Linked DNA regions of Homo sapiens. The protein of the gene in region 1 interacts with the protein of each later gene in a biochemical or structural test. Each region holds a gene or a part of one and is shown in the gene's direction. Other genes may lie near its edges.

Evidence for each region.
Region 2: the proteins of HNF1B (region 1) and PRDM1 form a complex in vitro, tested with the Homo sapiens proteins (one study listed by BioGRID).
Region 3: the proteins of HNF1B (region 1) and TLX2 form a complex in vitro, tested with the Homo sapiens proteins (one study listed by BioGRID).

Annotation. Positions count from the first base shown.
Region 1 is NC_000017.11:37,735,056-37,742,079, reverse strand, and holds part of HNF1B (hepatocyte nuclear factor 1-beta), read left to right. Parts: intron 1-2,440; coding exon 2,441-2,640; intron 2,641-7,024. UniProt on the Homo sapiens protein: Transcription factor that binds to the inverted palindrome 5'-GTTAATNATTAAC-3'. Binds to the FPC element in the cAMP regulatory unit of the PLAU gene. Transcriptional activity is increased by coactivator PCBD1.
Region 2 is NC_000006.12:106,103,330-106,110,353, forward strand, and holds the end of PRDM1 (PR domain zinc finger protein 1), read left to right. Parts: intron 1-1,495; coding exon 1,496-2,604; intron 2,605-3,041; coding exon 3,042-3,170; intron 3,171-3,581; coding exon 3,582-4,157; 3' UTR 4,158-6,609; downstream 6,610-7,024. UniProt on the Homo sapiens protein: Transcription factor that mediates a transcriptional program in various innate and adaptive immune tissue-resident lymphocyte T cell types such as tissue-resident memory T (Trm), natural killer (trNK) and natural killer T (NKT) cells and negatively regulates gene expression of proteins that promote the egress of tissue-resident T-cell populations from non-lymphoid organs.
Region 3 is NC_000002.12:74,510,291-74,517,467, forward strand, and holds TLX2 (T-cell leukemia homeobox protein 2), read left to right. Parts: upstream 1-4,159; 5' UTR 4,160-4,516; coding exon 4,517-4,916; intron 4,917-5,342; coding exon 5,343-5,580; intron 5,581-5,682; coding exon 5,683-5,899; 3' UTR 5,900-6,858; downstream 6,859-7,177. UniProt on the Homo sapiens protein: Transcription activator that binds DNA elements with the consensus sequence 5'-CGGTAATTGG-3'. Binds DNA via its homeobox. Required for normal cell death of enteric neurons in the gastrointestinal tract.

The DNA of each region.
Region 1 (7,024 bases):
GGCCGCAGGCCCTCTTCGGGACCGGTGCCTTTCTCGGTGTTAGGGAACCTCTGAACCTGAGCTGTGTTTTCAAACAAACAAACAAAAATAACCAGCTCTCCCGGCTCTTCCCGGTGAACACACGTGAATTTTGGGGTCAGAGGGTTGTGAAGGTATAACTGCGCCATCTTACTCCTCACTCTTTTAAGTCGGACTTAAAAGGTTTTGCCATTATTTATAAGGTTCTTGGGGGCTTTTTTTAAACCCTCCCCAATTGTTGGGCTAATTCACTGTTTCCACAGAATCATTCCCACTTAGAACAGTACCCTATTTTTCTAGGTTTCTTAGGCATACAAAATGAACACAGGTAAAGGCATTTAAACAAAAGAAAAATAGCCGAAGAATTTGCTAAAGCAATATTCACTTTTAAAATGCAATTTTTCCCCTAAGGTTCGAGGAGTCTTGTTCGTAGCCGTTGAAAGTATTTTTCCATCCTAAAAATATCGGTGGAAATATTGACCAGAAATAAACTTTTAAATGATCTGTGATGTTTACAAGGATATGTCTAAAACGTTTATTACATTATTTTCCTCTTAATGTGAATTCTCCACGTTTGAAACTGTAACTCGTTTTCTCATTTTTTGTTCTTCTTGTTACTTCCTCATATTGTGTACTTGGAAATTACCTTTGTAAATACTTGAGAAATTCGTTCTTATATATAATTAATATAAAAAGTTTGCATTTCTCAAAAACATCTCTATCAAAGCCTGTGTTCTCACGAGTTTAATATCAAAGTCTTAATAAAATAATCACAACTACCCAAATGCTTATAAAATATGTTCGATTACTGGATTTTTATTCATTAAACAGAATTAATTTTATTTGACATATTTAAAGGCGCCATTTAGAAATAAAATTGCTTATTATGTTGCAATGCTGTATCTATTTCAGCCTCTACACCGTTTTCTTTTTTGTTTCACCTGAAACTAGTTTTCCCTTCCGTTTTTTTTCTTGTTCTATCAAGCTAATATATATATCAACATACAGTAATGGGGTGCTGGTTTTTGTAAGTTAAATATGTACCTGCATTAAATAAATAGTAAACATGTATATATTGCTTCTTTAGTACTTTTGTTCTGTGCTGCACACTATTTTAATTTCTAGTTTTAAATTATATCTCTCTTTTCAAAGCATCTGTTCAATAAGCAAGAAAAGATATTGGCAAAGTTGAAACCATTCTAGACAAATAAAATTCAAAGGTGCTAAAACTAGCAGTTTACACACCTGTGTTTATGAGAAATGAAAAGTATAACCATGTTCTTATCCAGTATTTAAAATTTATGAGAAACATAATACAGGAAAACAAGCATCTAAAATTGTTAATGTCCGAAATTGAAGTTATTTGTCCCCATTAGCCCAGTAGATTTTGTCTGGAAGGTGGAGCTGTGGATTTTTTTTTTTTTTAACTACTTGCCTCACCTCAGTGGTGTGATCCTCCCGTCCCAAGGAGATACAACATTGTATTTTGGAAAACTTTTCTAAAACTCTGAAAATTATTTACTATTTGGCTAAGACATCCTCCTTGCTTCTTAGAAGGTGAACACATACATTTCACCCCTGTTTTATAAGAAATGGAGATACCCATTCAAAAGGAAAATAATGTAGGAGAGGTTGAAGCTAAAATTGGGCAAATTCAGAAACTGATGCTATCCCTACTTCATTGTAGGATCAGGGAGTCCAGCCCCAAGCTAAAGGCATCCCCACTTTCCAGTGGGCCTCCTGCCTTTTAAATCTCCCACATTGCAGGAAAATGGAGGAAAGCAAAATAAAATGGCCAGGCGCGGTGGCTCACGTCTGTAATCCCAGCACTTTGGGAGGCCGAGGCAGATGGATCACCTAAGGTCAGGAGTGTGAGCCCAGCCTGGCCAACATGGTGAAACCCCATCTCTACTAAAAATAAAAAATTTAGCTGGGTGTGGTGCTGGGCATCTATAATCCCAGTTACTCTGGAGGCTGAGGCAGGAGAATCGCTTGAACCCAGGATCCTGGTGGAGGTTGCAGTGAGCCAAGATGCCGTTGCACTCCAGCCTGGGTGACAAGAGCAAAACTCCACATCAAAAAAAATAATAATAAATAAATTAATTAATTAATTAAATAAAACAAGAGCTTTTCTTTTTGCTTAATAAGAGAGAGTGGTGGTGGTGCTTTTTTATTCCTGAAGATGGGAAGTCCTCTTTTGCCCACTAACCTCAGAAGAAAGGGATGAGGTGTACCGTACAGGGGCAGTCACCTTCTCCTCTGTTTAGCTTCCATTTTGGCCTCATGTCTACCCCAAAGTTGTAGCTTAGATGGGGGGAAAATTCAGAATTTTGCATAGACCATAGGTAGCACCCCCTAGAAAAAGAATGTTTCTCCCCAGATGTCTCCCACTAGTACCCTAACCATCTGCTTGTCTGTCTAGTGAGGACCCTTGGAGGGCTGCTAAAATGATCAAGGGTTACATGCAGCAACACAACATCCCCCAGAGGGAGGTGGTCGATGTCACCGGCCTGAACCAGTCGCACCTCTCCCAGCATCTCAACAAGGGCACCCCTATGAAGACCCAGAAGCGTGCCGCTCTGTACACCTGGTACGTCAGAAAGCAACGAGAGATCCTCCGACGTAAGTGTTTTCATCCTGCCTCTGCCTCAACCTGAAGTGACCTTTGCCCTCTCACCCCATTGGCTGCCTCAGTTTCCCTTTCATCGACAAGGCCTTGTGAGCACTTGGCAGATATGAGGAAGGTGGCAAGTAGATTTGGCCTTGGTGGTTGCTGTACAATGGATTGGCTTCTGTCATGTTCTTCAGTCACAGCCCCCTTGCTACCCAGCCAGTTGCTCTGAGGAGCCTGTCAGTGTATGCAGCATACCTTAAACTTTTTGGCCCCTCCTTCCACCTCCTTCTCTTTGAAACCAAGTAGGTGACAGAGTGAAATGTCTTCCCTGAGAGAAAACCCAGCATCTCCCCTTGATACGTGACCATCAGTCAATTTCCAAAGAAGACATTTCGTTGCAGTCAATAATATTGATTACTATTACTGTTAATTTCCTCCTCTCTGGAAAAAGTATCAACAATAGAATGCATTTGTATAGAGAGATATATTCAGAACTTCACCCTGTTCTTGGAGGATAGTGGGAGGGATTGAATCCTGAGGCAATTTAAGGTGTTTACCCACATTTACCAACACTGGTAGAGTGTGGGGACCTCAGCTGGTGGCCCTGCTCATGAAGAAGCTATTTCTGGCTAAGGCAGGGCACAGGAAAAGCATCTGCATTTGGAACTCTGACCCATCAATTCTTGTCATCCCCATTCCCATCCCAAAGTTTTTTTTCTGTCCCAAGATTTCTCCCACCCAATAATTCTAAAAGGTTTTTGTTTTGAAGTACGTCTAGAGAAGTTTGAACTGCCTATGAATAACAAGAGTAGGAATGACATACTGTCTGTATTTTAGGAAAGTATTCTTTGACATTACACTTTCATTACTTTGATCCAATCCTTTTCCTGGAAAATTTGTATCGGTTTTCACTCTCCCCACACACTATCCTCTGGCTTTATCTAGGCTTCTCTGTCTTTATCAAGATGTTAATTTCCACCACTATCTGGGTTTCTGGGTTGGGTTTTTTCCCTGTTGCTTTTTAAAATGACTCTTGTCTTCTGTTACACACTGCTCTGAAGTGATTGTTTCAGTATTTATTGTCTCAATGTCCCTGGGCTGGTGAAAGGAATGGTTTTAGGTGTTCATTTCATATTGTGGTGTTTGTGCTTTTGTTGGGAGCATTACATGAATAGATTGGAAGAAGCAACATGAGAGCTGTTTGCTGCTTAGAGCGAGAGACCTTTCCAAGAATGGGTTGGCCCCCCATACTTGGTGACTAGCTCTTTAAGAATTTGTGTTCCTGACATGAAGCAACTCTCTGTAGTTCCTGGAAAGCCTAAAAAAATTCTCAGGAGCCATTGTCTCCAAAGACCCAACAACGCTTGGGCCCTGCCCAATTTAAGCTTTATGCAGCATTTCCAGTCTGTGCTGCCTCTCTGTATTCAATGAGAATTTCTTCAGAAAGGAGAAGGAGGCAGGAAAGGCAGACTGGAAACTTCTCAAAAGACAGAGGTCCAGAAAGTTTCTCAAGATGCTGAGGAAGGGACGTTTTACAAATACAACAGCCTCTTCAAGAGATTGTTGTTATTGTTATTTTTGTTTTATTTATTTATTTATTTATTTAACTTTTTGAGACGGGGTCTCGCTCTGCCACCCAGACTGGAGTGCAGTGGCGCGATCTTGGCTCACTGCAAGCTCCGCCTCCCGGGTTCACGCCATTCTCCTGCTTCAGCCTCCCAAGTAGCTGGGACTGCAGGTGCCCGCCACCACACCTGGCTAATTTTTTTTTTTTTTGGTATTTTTAGTAGAGACGGGGTTTCACTATGTTGGCCAGGCTGGTCTTGATCTCCTGACCTCGTGATCCGCCGCCTCAGCCTCCCAAAGTGCTGGGATTACAGGGGTGAGCCACCGCACCCAGTTGTTATTTTTGTTTTAAAGTCACACGAGACATAAAAGCTTAAGAAACATTCCTTCCTTCTGTAACTATTATACAGGCACCTACTATGTGCCAAACACTACGCTAAGCTATGGAATACATAGGTTCTTTTCTCCAGGGACTTACCTGCCATCCAGTGAAGAAGTGGAGATGTTTGAGTAAATAATGACATTCACTTTCTAAGAGCTGTTATAAAGATATACACAAGGGGCAGCAGAGGAATTGCTAAATTGCCTGGAGACATCATGGGAGGCTTCCTAGAAGAGGTGACATTCAAATCATGTCTTGAAGGATGAATGTAAGACATGCAAGCATGATATAAGAATTAGGAAGTAAGAGAAATAAAAGAGGGACACAAGTGAATGGGGTGAGGAGAAGGAGGAAGAGGGGAGAGAATAAAAAATGATACATGATTACAAATTTCCTGGAAAAACTAAAAATAACAAATGGTAATATTCATGGGCCCCTCTACACACACAGAACCTCCTTGTCCAAGCAGCCCCCAAGCCTATAAAGAGGCTACTGAAGCCAACTTCTCCAAGATAATTTTCATGGGCAATGAACATTTTCTTCCCCAACCCCAATTAATCTGAAGGGAAGTAGAGAAGAGTTGTTGGTGGCTAGAGGGAGCAAATGTGGGAGTCTAGTTCTTCAAAAATTGGGAGAGGCTAGAGCCAAGCCCCTGATGTCAGTGGAACCCGAATGGTTCTGAGCACCTACAGGCAAACCCACCTGGCTGATTTGAGGACACACTGAGTTCTGAACACTGTTCAGCCTGCTACCTCCTCAAAGGGCAGGTGAGAGACTGAGGCAGCCCTCACACTGGGGAGCAGCTGCGAGAGTGTCTCACACCCACCAGACACAAAGCTTCAGGAATCGGTTTTGTCACCTCCACACAAGTCAGATATGAAGCGTTTGCGGGGTACGTGGCTTGGGTTTTGTTTTTAGTGAGAGGTGATGCACAGGCTGGTAGTTAGGAGCCTGCAAGCCTGCAGGCTGGGCTCGTGTCCAGGCTCCTGCCCCAAGTCCACATGACTTTGGACAAGTCACTTCACCAGTCTGAACCTCAGTTTCTTCATCTGTAAAATGGAGGTGGCTGTACTTCTCACATGGAGCGGTCGTAAGAATTAGATGAAGGAATATATTTAGAGGATTTGGCACAATACCTCACCACAGAAAAGGTTCAATAAATGTGAACCGTTATTGTGTCTGTTCACATCAAATGAAAAAATCTCACATTGCTCCCAGGCCCTTGGGATGATCCACACTGGCTTTCGCCATTGGTGACTCTACTGGTGCCACACAGGGCCCACGGGGAGGAGGGAAGACACTGTGACAGACCTCACTGAGCAGGGGACATCTCCTTCTCCCCCTTGGATTTCCCCTCAAGTAACTGCATTTAGAGAGCTGCTGTGAAGTCAAATACCATAGAGGGGCTAAAGCACTTTGAAAAGTATAATCAGGTGGGGCATGGTGGCTCACGCCTGTAACCCCAATGCTTTGGGAGGCTGAGGTGGCGGGAAGACTGCTTGAGGCCAGGAGTCTGAGACCAGCTTGGGCAACATAGCGAGACCCCGTCTCTACAAAAATAATTTTTTTTAATTAGTCAGATGTGGTGGCCTGCACATCCGTAGTCCCAGCTACTTGGGAGGCTAAGGCGAGAGGATGGCTTGAGCCCAGGAGGTCAAGGCTGCAGTGAGCTATGATCGTACTACTGCATTCCAGCCTGGGTCACAGAGCAAGACCTTGTTTGAAAAAAAGAAAAAGTATAACCCCCAAAGGAATTTGGGCCAACATCACTATCATCCTGACTAGGGGTAGATATTCTAAAAGACTAGTTAGTGTCCCTAAGCTTTCAGTCAGTCTCATTCCACAGCTGGGGAGACTAAATGATGAGGGAATTAAGCTGGGGCCCCACATGATCCCACTAGCAGTGACTTCCTGCTAGTACATTTGACAGGGACTCTCTCAGGTCTATAGTGGCATTGTTGGGCACCACTGAAAACAGAGCCCTAAGGTGGCCTAAGAATCCTCCAAGGTGAATGGGCCGAAATCAAAGGCCCCAGTGACACCATCAGTCCACAGTTAAACAAAGCCCAACACCACCTGCAGTTGGGATTGCAAGTCTTGGCGGGCTAGGGGCCCTAACCATTCCTCCCGATGGAGCAAAATGGAAATGAGCCTAAGACAGGTGGTAAGTTCCCTGCTGCTGGAGGCATATAGCCTGGAGGGCCACTTGGTGTGGGGTTGTAGAGGGGATTCAAACGTTAAGTAGTAGCCTGACTTGAACCTTGAGGATTTTGGATCCAGTTGTCCAAAGGAACAGGAAGGATGGCATGTAAATGATGGCACATCATTTACATCACAAAGGGAGGTGGTAGCCTTCCACTTTCTGTGACCTGTGGGAGTAATTACAGGAACTGAGAAAGAAAGTCATCAAGGTCGGGCACGGTGGCTCACACCTGTAATCCCTG
Region 2 (7,024 bases), on another chromosome or scaffold:
TCTAGACCTATCAGATAGCAAGTGTGGAGTTCTTTCTCAACTAAATTCAAGCAGAGACATTTTTTAGACGATGAAGGATATTTGCACAAAGGCTTCAGCATGATCCCCCAAACCTGCTGCCTCTGAAGGCATCTCCACACATTGACAGCCAATGCCTTCAGTGCGTTCCTAGGGCAGGTGTCCTGGCTTGAGTGACTGTCCTCCAATAATCAGAGCTCAAACTAAACATCGTATGTTTTACTTTTGGTTTCCAGGCAAGGCTGAGCAGGGAATTTTCAGTTTTCCCTGCCCAGATGGGTGTTTTTTCCTGAAGGCATCATTTATTGTGTAGCGAGGAGACAGGGCTGGCTGTGGCAGGGATAGTCTAGAACTGTCCTCATTGCTGCTGTTCCTAAATAGTATCTTTACCAAGTAATAACGTGCCGTCTTTGGGAATAAGTGCTTTCCTCTTAGCCTGTTCTGTTTTCTTGGGTGCGCTAAGTAATTGAACTGGCTCAGGAAGTACCTATTGTGGTTTGGCAGAGGTGACTGTCACGCCTTGTGACTCCAGGGGCCAGCACTGCTGGGATCCTGGCTAGACCAGACAGAGCCTTGGTGAAGTGCTTAGGCTGTCTGCACATCGCGAGGAAGGTGGTATTCACTTCGCTAAGCTCCTTGGCATAGGCAGTTTGAACAGGGCTTTATCAAATTCGTATTCAACAAGAGTAGAAGCGAAAATTGATGACTGTGTATTACTTGAAATGAGTCTTAATCTTTCACATTTAGTTCTCAGGGTATGCTGATTTCCTTTAGGTAAACCATGAACATCAGAAAGACTTTTATTAACCTATGACAGGGTCCCCACCCCAGTATTTTTCCACTCCATTAAAATGGAAGTTTTTTTTTTTTTTTTCTTTTTTGAGACAGAGTTTTGCTCTTGTTGCCCAGTCTGGAGTGCAATGGCACAATCTCGGCTCACCACAACCTCCACCTCCCAGATTCAAGCGATTCTTCTGCCTCAGCCTCCCAAGTAGCTGGGATTACAGGTGTGCGCCACCACGCCCAGCTAATTTTGTATTTTTAGTAGAGATGGGGTTTCTCCATGTTGGTCAGGCTGGTCTCGAACTTCCGACCTCAGGTGATCCGCCCACCTCGGCCTCCCAAAGTGCTGGGATTACAGGCAAGAGCCACTGCATCCAGCTTAGGCTATCTTACTCCAGCCTAAACAGCAATTTTCTATCATAAGGTCTGTACTAATGAAAACAGAATCACCCAAGGCTGCTGTTTGTTCTGTCTGTGCTGCCATTGTCCGCATTTTGCTGAGGAGGAAACGGAACTGCACTTTTGAGTGAGTGGCCCAGAGCCTTCTAGAATGAGAGTGCGTTGGAAGCCAGATATGTGGCGATTGTGTCGCCAGCTGTTACTCAGGTTTTCTCAAGAAGGAGGAGCAACTTTGGCAGTTTTGCTTCAGTTCTCTCTAGCCCTCTGTGTAATCGCCCCTTTTTCTTTATTTCAGCACAAACACAGAGCAGTCTAAAGCAACCGAGCACTGAGAAAAATGAACTCTGCCCAAAGAATGTCCCAAAGAGAGAGTACAGCGTGAAAGAAATCCTAAAATTGGACTCCAACCCCTCCAAAGGAAAGGACCTCTACCGTTCTAACATTTCACCCCTCACATCAGAAAAGGACCTCGATGACTTTAGAAGACGTGGGAGCCCCGAAATGCCCTTCTACCCTCGGGTCGTTTACCCCATCCGGGCCCCTCTGCCAGAAGACTTTTTGAAAGCTTCCCTGGCCTACGGGATCGAGAGACCCACGTACATCACTCGCTCCCCCATTCCATCCTCCACCACTCCAAGCCCCTCTGCAAGAAGCAGCCCCGACCAAAGCCTCAAGAGCTCCAGCCCTCACAGCAGCCCTGGGAATACGGTGTCCCCTGTGGGCCCCGGCTCTCAAGAGCACCGGGACTCCTACGCTTACTTGAACGCGTCCTACGGCACGGAAGGTTTGGGCTCCTACCCTGGCTACGCACCCCTGCCCCACCTCCCGCCAGCTTTCATCCCCTCGTACAACGCTCACTACCCCAAGTTCCTCTTGCCCCCCTACGGCATGAATTGTAATGGCCTGAGCGCTGTGAGCAGCATGAATGGCATCAACAACTTTGGCCTCTTCCCGAGGCTGTGCCCTGTCTACAGCAATCTCCTCGGTGGGGGCAGCCTGCCCCACCCCATGCTCAACCCCACTTCTCTCCCGAGCTCGCTGCCCTCAGATGGAGCCCGGAGGTTGCTCCAGCCGGAGCATCCCAGGGAGGTGCTTGTCCCGGCGCCCCACAGTGCCTTCTCCTTTACCGGGGCCGCCGCCAGCATGAAGGACAAGGCCTGTAGCCCCACAAGCGGGTCTCCCACGGCGGGAACAGCCGCCACGGCAGAACATGTGGTGCAGCCCAAAGCTACCTCAGCAGCGATGGCAGCCCCCAGCAGCGACGAAGCCATGAATCTCATTAAAAACAAAAGAAACATGACCGGCTACAAGACCCTTCCCTACCCGCTGAAGAAGCAGAACGGCAAGATCAAGTACGAATGCAACGTTTGCGCCAAGACTTTCGGCCAGCTCTCCAATCTGAAGGTAGGCCTTGAGAGAGAGCAGTCCAAGGGGCTGTGAGTGCATGCTTGTGTTTGTATTTAGCTTGCTTTCCATGGGGTATCGATTGCATTTGCAGTAGTATGAGCCCCCGGTTGGGGATAGTGGGTATGGATTCCGCCTGGCTTTTGCCACTTCTAGCTCTTTGACTTTGGACAAGTGACTTCCCTTCTCCTGATTTTCTTCTGAATAATAAAAAAATTAGGGGTTTGGACTAGAAGATTAGGTGAAACTCCCTGCTAGCCTGTGATTTTTGTGCTTTTAAGAAAAACACCATTCTGAAAACATGAAGATTTCTTCTTTTTAAGACTGTCTTGATGCTTTTCTTAAGATATTTGCATCAACACTTGAGTCTTGGAGCAGAAATGTTAGGTCTCAGAGCCAGCTTGAGAGCAGAGCTAACACATGTGGCTTCTTCCCAGGTCCACCTGAGAGTGCACAGTGGAGAACGGCCTTTCAAATGTCAGACTTGCAACAAGGGCTTTACTCAGCTCGCCCACCTGCAGAAACACTACCTGGTACACACGGGAGAAAAGCCACATGAATGCCAGGTGCGCAGTATTTTCTGGGTAGACCTTCTGACCTTTGTAGAAAATGTCTGTGAGTCACCCTCCCATGTCCTATATAGCCCGTAGTTAAAGCCAACACCAGATTCTGCGTTGTCCCATCCTGGACTGATGGCACTATGGTCCTTCCCAGTACTTTGTATCTGCTGATGACTTGAGATGGCACAGCCAGCTTCCAGTGGGTGGGAAAATGGTAGGGGAAATAAACAGCCCCTCGTGTGCTGTGTGCCCACATCCCCCCGTTTGCTTAATACCACACTGGAGGTGCCACAAGGAGGCTTCTCACCTCCTAGGTTGCTGGGCGTTGGCCGGTAAGCCTGCCCCTCCCGTTGGCAACTCTTAATCTTCTGGCCTTCCTGTCTCCCTTCCCTGCTGTCTCTCTCCCCTACACTGTAGGTCTGCCACAAGAGATTTAGCAGCACCAGCAATCTCAAGACCCACCTGCGACTCCATTCTGGAGAGAAACCATACCAATGCAAGGTGTGCCCTGCCAAGTTCACCCAGTTTGTGCACCTGAAACTGCACAAGCGTCTGCACACCCGGGAGCGGCCCCACAAGTGCTCCCAGTGCCACAAGAACTACATCCATCTCTGTAGCCTCAAGGTTCACCTGAAAGGGAACTGCGCTGCGGCCCCGGCGCCTGGGCTGCCCTTGGAAGATCTGACCCGAATCAATGAAGAAATCGAGAAGTTTGACATCAGTGACAATGCTGACCGGCTCGAGGACGTGGAGGATGACATCAGTGTGATCTCTGTAGTGGAGAAGGAAATTCTGGCCGTGGTCAGAAAAGAGAAAGAAGAAACTGGCCTGAAAGTGTCTTTGCAAAGAAACATGGGGAATGGACTCCTCTCCTCAGGGTGCAGCCTTTATGAGTCATCAGATCTACCCCTCATGAAGTTGCCTCCCAGCAACCCACTACCTCTGGTACCTGTAAAGGTCAAACAAGAAACAGTTGAACCAATGGATCCTTAAGATTTTCAGAAAACACTTATTTTGTTTCTTAAGTTATGACTTGGTGAGTCAGGGTGCCTGTAGGAAGTGGCTTGTACATAATCCCAGCTCTGCAAAGCTCTCTCGACAGCAAATGGTTTCCCCTCACCTCTGGAATTAAAGAAGGAACTCCAAAGTTACTGAAATCTCAGGGCATGAACAAGGCAAAGGCCATATATATATATATATATATATCTGTATACATATTATATATACTTATTTACACCTGTGTCTATATATTTGCCCCTGTGTATTTTGAATATTTGTGTGGACATGTTTGCATAGCCTTCCCATTACTAAGACTATTACCTAGTCATAATTATTTTTTCAATGATAATCCTTCATAATTTATTATACAATTTATCATTCAGAAAGCAATAATTAAAAAAGTTTACAATGACTGGAAAGATTCCTTGTAATTTGAGTATAAATGTATTTTTGTCTTGTGGCCATTCTTTGTAGATAATTTCTGCACATCTGTATAAGTACCTAAGATTTAGTTAAACAAATATATGACTTCAGTCAACCTCTCTCTCTAATAATGGTTTGAAAATGAGGTTTGGGTAATTGCCAATGTTGGACAGTTGATGTGTTCATTCCTGGGATCCTATCATTTGAACAGCATTGTACATAACTTGGGGGTATGTGTGCAGGATTACCCAAGAATAACTTAAGTAGAAGAAACAAGAAAGGGAATCTTGTATATTTTTGTTGATAGTTCATGTTTTTCCCCCAGCCACAATTTTACCGGAAGGGTGACAGGAAGGCTTTACCAACCTGTCTCTCCCTCCAAAAGAGCAGAATCCTCCCACCGCCCTGCCCTCCCCACCGAGTCCTGTGGCCATTCAGAGCGGCCACATGACTTTTGCATCCATTGTATTATCAGAAAATGTGAAGAAGAAAAAAATGCCATGTTTTAAAACCACTGCGAAAATTTCCCCAAAGCATAGGTGGCTTTGTGTGTGTGCGATTTGGGGGCTTGAGTCTGGGTGGTGTTTTGTTGTTGGTTTTTGTTGCTTTTTTTTTTTTTTTTTTTTTAATGTCAAAATTGCACAAACATGGTGCTCTACCAGGAAGGATTCGAGGTAGATAGGCTCAGGCCACACTTTAAAAACAAACACACAAACAACAAAAAACGGGTATTCTAGTCATCTTGGGGTAAAAGCGGGTAATGAACATTCCTATCCCCAACACATCAATTGTATTTTTTCTGTAAAACTCAGATTTTCCTCAGTATTTGTGTTTTTACATTTTATGGTTAATTTAATGGAAGATGAAAGGGCATTGCAAAGTTGTTCAACAACAGTTACCTCATTGAGTGTGTCCAGTAGTGCAGGAAATGATGTCTTATCTAATGATTTGCTTCTCTAGAGGAGAAACCGAGTAAATGTGCTCCAGCAAGATAGACTTTGTGTTATTCTATCTTTTATTCTGCTAAGCCCAAAGATTACATGTTGGTGTTCAAAGTGTAGCAAAAAATGATGTATATTTATAAATCTATTTATACCACTATATCATATGTATATATATTTATAACCACTTAAATTGTGAGCCAAGCCATGTAAAAGATCTACTTTTTCTAAGGGCAAAAAAAAAAAAAAAAAAAAAAGAACACTCCTTTCTGAGACTTTGCTTAATACTTGGTGACCTCACAATCACGTCGGTATGATTGGGCACCCTTGCCTACTGTAAGAGACCCTAAAACCTTGGTGCAGTGGTGGGGACCACAAAACAACCAGGGAGGAAGAGATACATCATTTTTTAGTATTAAGGACCATCTAAGACAGCTCTATTTTTTTTTTGCCACTTTATGATTATGTGGTCACACCCAAGTCACAGAAATAAAAAACTGACTTTACCGCTGCAATTTTTCTGTTTTCCTCCTTACTAAATACTGATACATTACTCCAATCTATTTTATAATTATATTTGACATTTTGTTCACATCAACTAATGTTCACCTGTAGAAGAGAACAAATTTCGAATAATCCAGGGAAACCCAAGAGCCTTACTGGTCTTCTGTAACTTCCAAGACTGACAGCTTTTTATGTATCAGTGTTTGATAAACACAGTCCTTAACTGAAGGTAAACCAAAGCATCACGTTGACATTAGACCAAATACTTTTGATTCCCAACTACTCGTTTGTTCTTTTTCTCCTTTTGTGCTTTCCCATAGTGAGAATTTTTATAAAGACTTCTTGCTTCTCTCACCATCCATCCTTCTCTTTTCTGCCTCTTACATGTGAATGTTGAGCCCACAATCAACAGTGGTTTTATTTTTTCCTCTACTCAAAGTTAAAACTGACCAAAGTTACTGGCTTTTTACTTTGCTAGAACAACAAACTATCTTATGTTTACATACTGGTTTACAATGTTATTTATGTGCAAATTGTCAAAATGTAAATTAAATATAAATGTTCATGCTTTACCAAAATTTGTCTAGTGTCTTGAGTGAAGGGTCAGTGAGCGACATCTCCATACTGTACAGATGGCACCAGAACAAATTTTGAACACAATGCAATTTGTCTCTCCCCTGCCCCCACCCCTGTTCTTCTGCAGCACCCTCTGGGGTGCCCTGATCTCCCCCGGCTCCTTCCAGGAGTATATTTGTGCGTGATCTGACAGCATTGATTTGTCTCTCATAACTAAGATTTTTCTTTATGAACTATAAAAATGTTCTCTAAAGGAAGCATTTCAAGCATCAGCCAGTAAGTGGGAGACGATTTGTTTGCTTTGTGAACTTTTACATTTTATTTCGTCAATGGACATGGGGTGGTGAGCAGATAAGGAGGACTTGGATCACTTCCAGAAATGCCCTGCTAGCTTGTGCCAGTCTGTGTGCGTGTGTG
Region 3 (7,177 bases), on another chromosome or scaffold:
GAGGCTGAGTTAGGAAGATTGCTCGAGCCTGGGAGGTTGAGGCAGCAGTGAACCGTGATAATGCTACTGCACTCCAGCCTGAGCGACAGAGTGAGATCCCATGTCTTAAAAAAAAAAAAAAAAGAAAAGAAAAAAGAAAGCTTAAGTCTGAGCTCTGAAGAATCCTCACAGTCTTCAGTGGAAGAAGGAAAATCAGTGGAGGAAAAACATAAGCAGTGACTACGAAAGTCCAAAGATGTGGAATAAGATATTACAGAAGCAAAAAGAAGGGACACTTCAAAAAATAATTGATGACCAACAAAGTAAAACATGCCAGGGAAGTCCTGGAGGAGGGATACTGAACACTGGAGCTCTCTGAGAAAGGGTTACTATAATGAAGGCAGCTTGCACTGAGTTAAAACAAGAATAAATCATGATGAAATGGAGGCAGTAGGCATGAAGTAAAAAGGAAAGGAAAAGCATGATCTCTCTTGAAGACTCAGGCAAAGATTTTGTCCAGATGATAAAGATCTGAGACAGCTGAGGGGTAGGAAAGACTAAGTTGATGAGAGCCACGGACACACAGGACATGGTGAGACAGATCCAAAGCAGTGTGTATGAGGGGGCACTCATTCCAGCACCTCTATCTTCGTCTTTTTTTTTTTTTTTTTTTTTTGAGATGGAGTCTCGCTTTGTCACCCAGGCTAGAGTGCAGTGGCGCGATCTCGGCTCACTGCCAGCTCCGCCTCCCGGGTTCACGCCATTCTCCTGCCTCAGCATCCCGAGTAGCTGGGACTACGGGTGCCCGCCACCAAGCCCGGCTAATTTTTTGTAGTTTTAGTAGACACGGGGTTTCACCGTGTCAGCCAGGATGGTCTCAATCTGCTGACCTCGTGATCCACCCACCTAGGCCTCCCAAAGTGCTAGGATTACAGGCATGAGCCACCGCGCCTAGCCAATCTTGAATATAAACCAGCAGGAACCATCCTTTCCCCGTGAATCAGAGACAAGGAGGCAAGAAAGGACATTTCAAGCCAGGTTGGGGTGGTGGTGCACACCTGTAACTCTAGATACTCAGGGGGTCAAAGTGGGAGGATTGTCTGAGCCCAGGAGTTTGAGGCCAGCCAGCCAGCCTGGGCATCATAGCGAGACTCTGTCTCTTAAAAAAAGAGAAAGTCCTAGGACTGTGGTCTGGGTGACGTAACTGGATGCCATCTGTTCTTGAAGTGGGGCACTAAAATATTTTAAAAACTCTCCAGAACACTTGTATGAACTACTGAGTTTGTGACCATTCTCCTTAAAGGATTAGTTGGACAGTCCCTGGGTGGCAGTACCATCTGTGCTGAACTCAAACGGCAGGGGTGTACGGGTCTGCATGATGTTGCCTTTTTTTCATTTGTTGATTCACTCACTGATTCATTCAAGGAGGATTTATTTAGGTTGGCTGGAGACACACTGGTTACCCTGCCCCCCTGCCCCCAGACTCAACCTTCAGAGCAGAGAATGGGACTAGCAAACTCCTAACCTGCACACCAGCCCTCTTCAGAGATTATATTTCTTTGCTGTCTCCCTAGGTTTCCTGCTCCCATCTGGAGGAATCCAGCCCTTGGTACCAAGGAAGTTTTTTTTGTTGTTGTTTGTTTGTTTGTTTTTTTTGAGATGGAGTCTTGCTCTGTTTCCCCAGACTGGAATGCAGTGGTGATCTCCGCTCACTGAAACCTCTGCCTCCCTGGTTCAAGTGATTCTCCTGCCTCAGCCTCCCCAGTAGCTGAGATTACAGGCACCTGCCAACATGCCCAGCTAATTTTTTTGTATTTTTAATAGAGACGGGGTTTCACCATGTTGGCCAGGCTGGTCTTGAACTCCTGACATCAGGTGATCCGTCCCCTCTTGGCATTCCAAAGTGGTGGGATTACAGGCATGAGCCACTGCTCCCGGCCTGAAGATTTGGACTAAACAGGTTCATGCTTCCTTGTAGCCCTCTCTACTGCTGAGAAAAGTGCATGGGTTTCTGTAAAGAGACGGGAGGTGATAATGTCTGTCTTCTCCATCAAGATGAAAATACATCTGCTAAATTGGTAGGAGCCCCCACCCTCTTTCAGAACGGGCTGTTAGCAGGGCTGAGGAGGGGCTGGACAAATTGGATAGTAGAGTGGTCAAGGTGGGGGAGGTTGACACTTTTTTTTTTTTTTCAGACAGAGTCTTGCTGTGTTGCCCAGGCTGGAGTGCAGTGGCGCGATCTCGGCTCACTGCAAGCTCCACCTCCCGGGTTCATGCCATTCTCCTGCCTCAGCCTCCCAAGTAGCTGGGACTACAGGCACCCGCCACCACGCCCAGCTAATTTTTGTATTTTTAGTAGAGATGGGTTTCACCGTGTTAGCCAGGATGGTCTCAATCTCCTGACCTCGTGATCCACCCGCCTCGGCCTCCCAAAGTGCTGGTATTACAGGCGTGAGCCACCGCGCCTGGCAGGTTGACACATATTAATGCCCACTATTCCTCCCACTGCCCTCTGTCCCATTTATGGTTCACCTCCTCTAGATATAAGGCTTCAGAGAACACTGAAGGGCTGGTGGACAGAGCTCACCCTTCTTTCTCTTCTTTATCTTTCTGCCCAGATGCCCAAATATCATTCCTGGTTCCCAGGGGAGAAAAGACCCCTTCACCCTGCCCCAGGCGCCAGGCTGCCAGCCCATCTGCTGGGGAGAAAGGAGGGGGCAGAGTCTTTCCCAGGGGATCCTGGAGAATCAGTTTGAAGATCAGTGCTCCCAGGGAGATCCAGCTAGTAGACTTACAAAGCATTTCGGTTCACACGGGAACCAGCAGGATGGAGCTGAACAGCGGGGTGGGCTCGGGACGAGGGTAGAGGGCTGGCACAGCAGGGTAAGGTCCTTTGGCCACCACGTGTCAGAGGTAGGCTGAGCTGCTCGTTGGTGCCCACCCGCCACCGCCACCGCAGGATGGTAGAAGCGCCCCCCTCTCTGAGCCCAGTCTCACCGGCTCAGAGGCGCCAGGGCCCCCCCGGGGGCCGGGGCGGGCCGGGGAAGGTAATGTAATTCCGGCCCAGCTAACCCGATTACCGCGGCCTGCACCGGGCAGGGCGGCGGCGGGGGCGGGTCTAAGGCTCAGGGGCCCGCCCGCGGGGGTCCCATCCCCGGGAAGGACGCAGAGTTCACGCACTCCCGGCTCCTGGATTCATGGCCAGAGGTCACAAGGTCACCAAGCGGCTTAGGTCTTTCCCCACCTCCCTTCTCTGACAGCTCCAGGCCATTTTTTGAGTTTGGGTGGGGTAAAATGTTTATGGGAAACAAGGCGGCCAGGATCCAACCAAGGCCTCAGTGAGGTCCCACGTGTCCCCCGTGGCGAGATTTCGCCCTCCCGCCGTTGAGGAGGAAGAGTGTGAGAACAGACTTCCTAGGCACAGAATGGAGGGGCAGAGTCCTGCATTGAGGACTCCCTGCACTTGGGGTCCGGGGGTAAGTGCCAGCCCCAAGAACCCGCCGGCCTGATTTGGCCCGGGTTGAGCCATGGTCCGTTTTACACGGATTTTGGAAAATCGAAATTCTAGGAAACACAGGACACCAATTACCGGTGCGCATGAACAGGGCTGGGGGGACCTACAGGAGAGGCCAGAAGGCGCACCACGATCGCCAGCCCAAAGCGGCCGTTCCCCGCCCTTAGCCCCTGCCGTCCCCTTCCCACACCTGTTCTCTTCCTGGGCCTGCAGCTCACCGGGCGCCGTTCCCCAGCCGCTTCTTACGCAGCCGGGAAACCACAACGAGATTTGGTCTTCGAGAGCATTTAGGCGGGGACCACAACGAATCCGGGAGTTGGCCAGAAGGATCCATCGAGAGGCGAAGAGTGGGGGCTGGGGGAGGAGGCACCTGCGGAGGAAGCCGGTGAGGCGGAGGCAGCCCAAAGGCGGAGGCCGCCCAAAGGCGGAGGCCAGCAAGGATGGAGGCGCGGTGAGCATCTCCGCTGACTCAGCGGCCCATGCTCGGGCCCCTCCCGCGCTGAGCCTGGCTCCTAACACCCTGGCCCCCTGTCCCCCTCCCCGCACATCTCCGCCAGCCAGCCTTCCCCCTGCGCTTGGCGCAAACAGGCGTCCCTTCCCCTTTAACTGCTGGGCCCCGCCCCTGCCCTACCCCCAGCCCCCACTACCCACCCGGGCCGATCCGTCAGTCACTGCCCCAGCCGGAGCTGGCCAACCCTCTCCACCCGGGACTTGGGCAGCGGCGCCGGCAGCCCAGCGTCTATTTGCGCTTAAGAGCCAGCAAGGAAGCTCCAGGGGCCCCAGCTGGCCGTGCTCCCCCGGGATGCAAGTCCCTGCGCTGACGCCCGGCAGCGGCTGGCACGGGCGCGGCTGCTCCGGGTGCACAGGGATGCTGCTGTTTCGGGGACCCCGGCGCCCTGCCTTGGCCAGCCCCGCGGGCCCCTGAGGCCACTCTCCGGAGCGCGCCGCCGCTGGGCTTCTGGCGCTGCCTGAGGCATCCTCCCCAACCACCGAACCTCCGGCGGTTCTCCTCGGCCCAGACCGATGGAGCCGGGGATGCTGGGTCCACACAACCTCCCACACCACGAGCCAATCAGCTTCGGCATCGATCAGATCCTGAGCGGCCCCGAAACCCCAGGGGGCGGTCTAGGCCTGGGTCGCGGGGGCCAGGGTCATGGGGAGAATGGGGCGTTCTCGGGTGGATACCACGGAGCCTCGGGCTACGGTCCCGCCGGCTCACTTGCCCCGCTGCCCGGCAGCTCCGGAGTGGGCCCAGGCGGCGTGATCCGCGTCCCTGCGCACCGCCCGCTGCCTGTGCCGCCGCCCGCTGGGGGGGCGCCTGCAGTGCCTGGGCCCTCGGGTTTGGGCGGCGCCGGAGGCCTAGCGGGACTCACCTTCCCCTGGATGGACAGCGGCCGCCGCTTTGCCAAGGACCGGCTCACGGGTGAGGTTGTCTGACCCCTCCAGCGTCACGCCCGACTCTGACCCCGTCTCCTCATTTCTTAGCTTTCTGCTCCAACTCAAGGACCCCTTTCACACCTCCCACTAGATCCTCCCAGGGGATCCTCCCCCAACTCAAATCTCTGGGTCCTGCCTCCGAGAGGTGATGGGGAGGGAGCTGCCGTCGGTGCCCGCGCCCTCCTCTGTAGTCCCACTGTCCACGCGTGGGGAGGGGAGGGTGAAGTTACAGGGGACGTCTCCCTCGCATCCCAGGGGAAGGGCCTTTCTTGGCTATAGGGCTCGGCTGATGCTTAGGGCCCGGGTAAGGACAGGGCGCGGGAGTTCTGCGGCCTGGACAGCCGCGCGGCCTTCTCAGTGGCACCTCGGGCCACCCTGCAAATCCTGCCCTGGTCTTTCTTCCTCCCGGTAGCTGCGCTCTCGCCCTTCTCTGGGACGCGCCGCATAGGCCACCCCTACCAAAACCGGACCCCTCCGAAGCGGAAGAAGCCGCGCACGTCCTTCTCCCGCTCACAGGTGCTGGAGTTGGAGCGGCGCTTCCTGCGCCAGAAGTACCTGGCCTCTGCGGAGAGGGCGGCGCTGGCCAAGGCCTTGCGCATGACCGACGCACAGGTCAAAACGTGGTTCCAGAACCGACGCACCAAGTGGCGGTGAGGCGCGGCGCGGGCGAGGGCGGACTGGGGTTCCCGAGCAGGGCCTGGTGAGAAGCGACGCGGCGGGCGCCCCGCTGACCCCGCGTCTCCCTCCCTTAGGCGCCAGACGGCGGAGGAGCGCGAGGCCGAGCGGCACCGCGCGGGCCGGCTGCTCCTGCATCTGCAGCAGGACGCGTTGCCACGGCCGCTGCGGCCGCCGCTGCCCCCGGACCCTCTCTGCCTGCACAACTCGTCGCTCTTCGCGCTGCAGAACCTGCAGCCCTGGGCCGAGGACAACAAAGTGGCTTCAGTGTCCGGGCTCGCCTCGGTGGTGTGAGCGACGCCCGTCCGATCGGCGTGGAGCGCCGGGCCCGGAGCGGTGGAGCGCGCGGCTGCCTGCGTCCATGGTCTAGTGGCAGCCGGGCGCGTGAGGAGCGGCAGGCCTTGAGGCTGTCGTCGAGGGCTCCTCCACCACCGGCCGGCTCCCAAGCCAGCGTTGCGCAGATGCACGGCCAGCTCAGAGGCGGCCTTTCCCGCCATTTTTCACTTCACTGCCGTTACGCCCTCGCTGGAACCTGAGGCGCCGAGAGGGCGGGACCTGCAGGACAGTAGCCAATGAGGTGCGGGGAGGGGGCCGGGCTGGCCAATGGGAGCTGCTTTCCTGAGGGACTCGAAATTCTCCGGCGGGTGGTCGGGAGCTGGGGCTCTGAGGGGCTCTAGCGGCGTTGCGCGCGGTGCCGGCTGGGTCTGTACCAAAGGTGTGAAGGAAAGAAGACACCGACCACGGCGAAGCAATAGAGGGGGTGCTGGAGCGCGAGAGGCTGGCTGATTGTGACCGAAACCAGAGGGTTGTCCACCCCGGGCATCTCATCCCTCAACTGTAAAATAATCGCTAAGGATTCCTTCCTGACTTTGAGCCTCACGTTGTCATGTGTGTTCAGCCTGCTGGCCACATCCTCCGGCAACACGCCCGGGCAGGAGGCGAGTCGGATACTTACACACCCAACGAAAGAGAAAATCTGGCTCCGGTGTCACATAGGGACAGAGAAGGGAGAGGAGGAAACAGTGGACAAAGTTAATGGGCCCAGTGGAGTTAGGGTGAAGAGAATTTGGAAAATAATTTGGAAGTGACAAGCTTAAGAAGAATCAAAGGTAATTCCAAGACTGGAAATGTGCAGCATCAGGAAATCAATGGTGCTGTGGATGATGAAAGGGAAATTGGGAAGACTGGAGCAAAATTAACTGTATAGGCAAAACTAAATGTTATACCTAGAGAGAATAAATCCTGGAGAAGTGCCTTTGAGGGAGATCAGCTGACATCCACATAGAGGTGGACCTAGATAGAATGAATGAGAACAGATAGAATCTCTGAGGGAGGGAACTCTTGAGGAGAAAAGCAGAGTTCTAAGGACTAAACCTTTCCACCAAATTCGACAACCACCTTTGCAATGTGCAAGATGATGGAGAATACCTAAGTCAATAGTCCAAGGGCAGGCAGGGCACGGTGGCTCACGCCTGTAATCCCAGCACTTTGGGCCGAGGCGGGAGGATCACAAGGTCAGGAGATCGAGACCATCCTGGCTAACACGGTGAAACCCTGTCTTGACTAAAAATA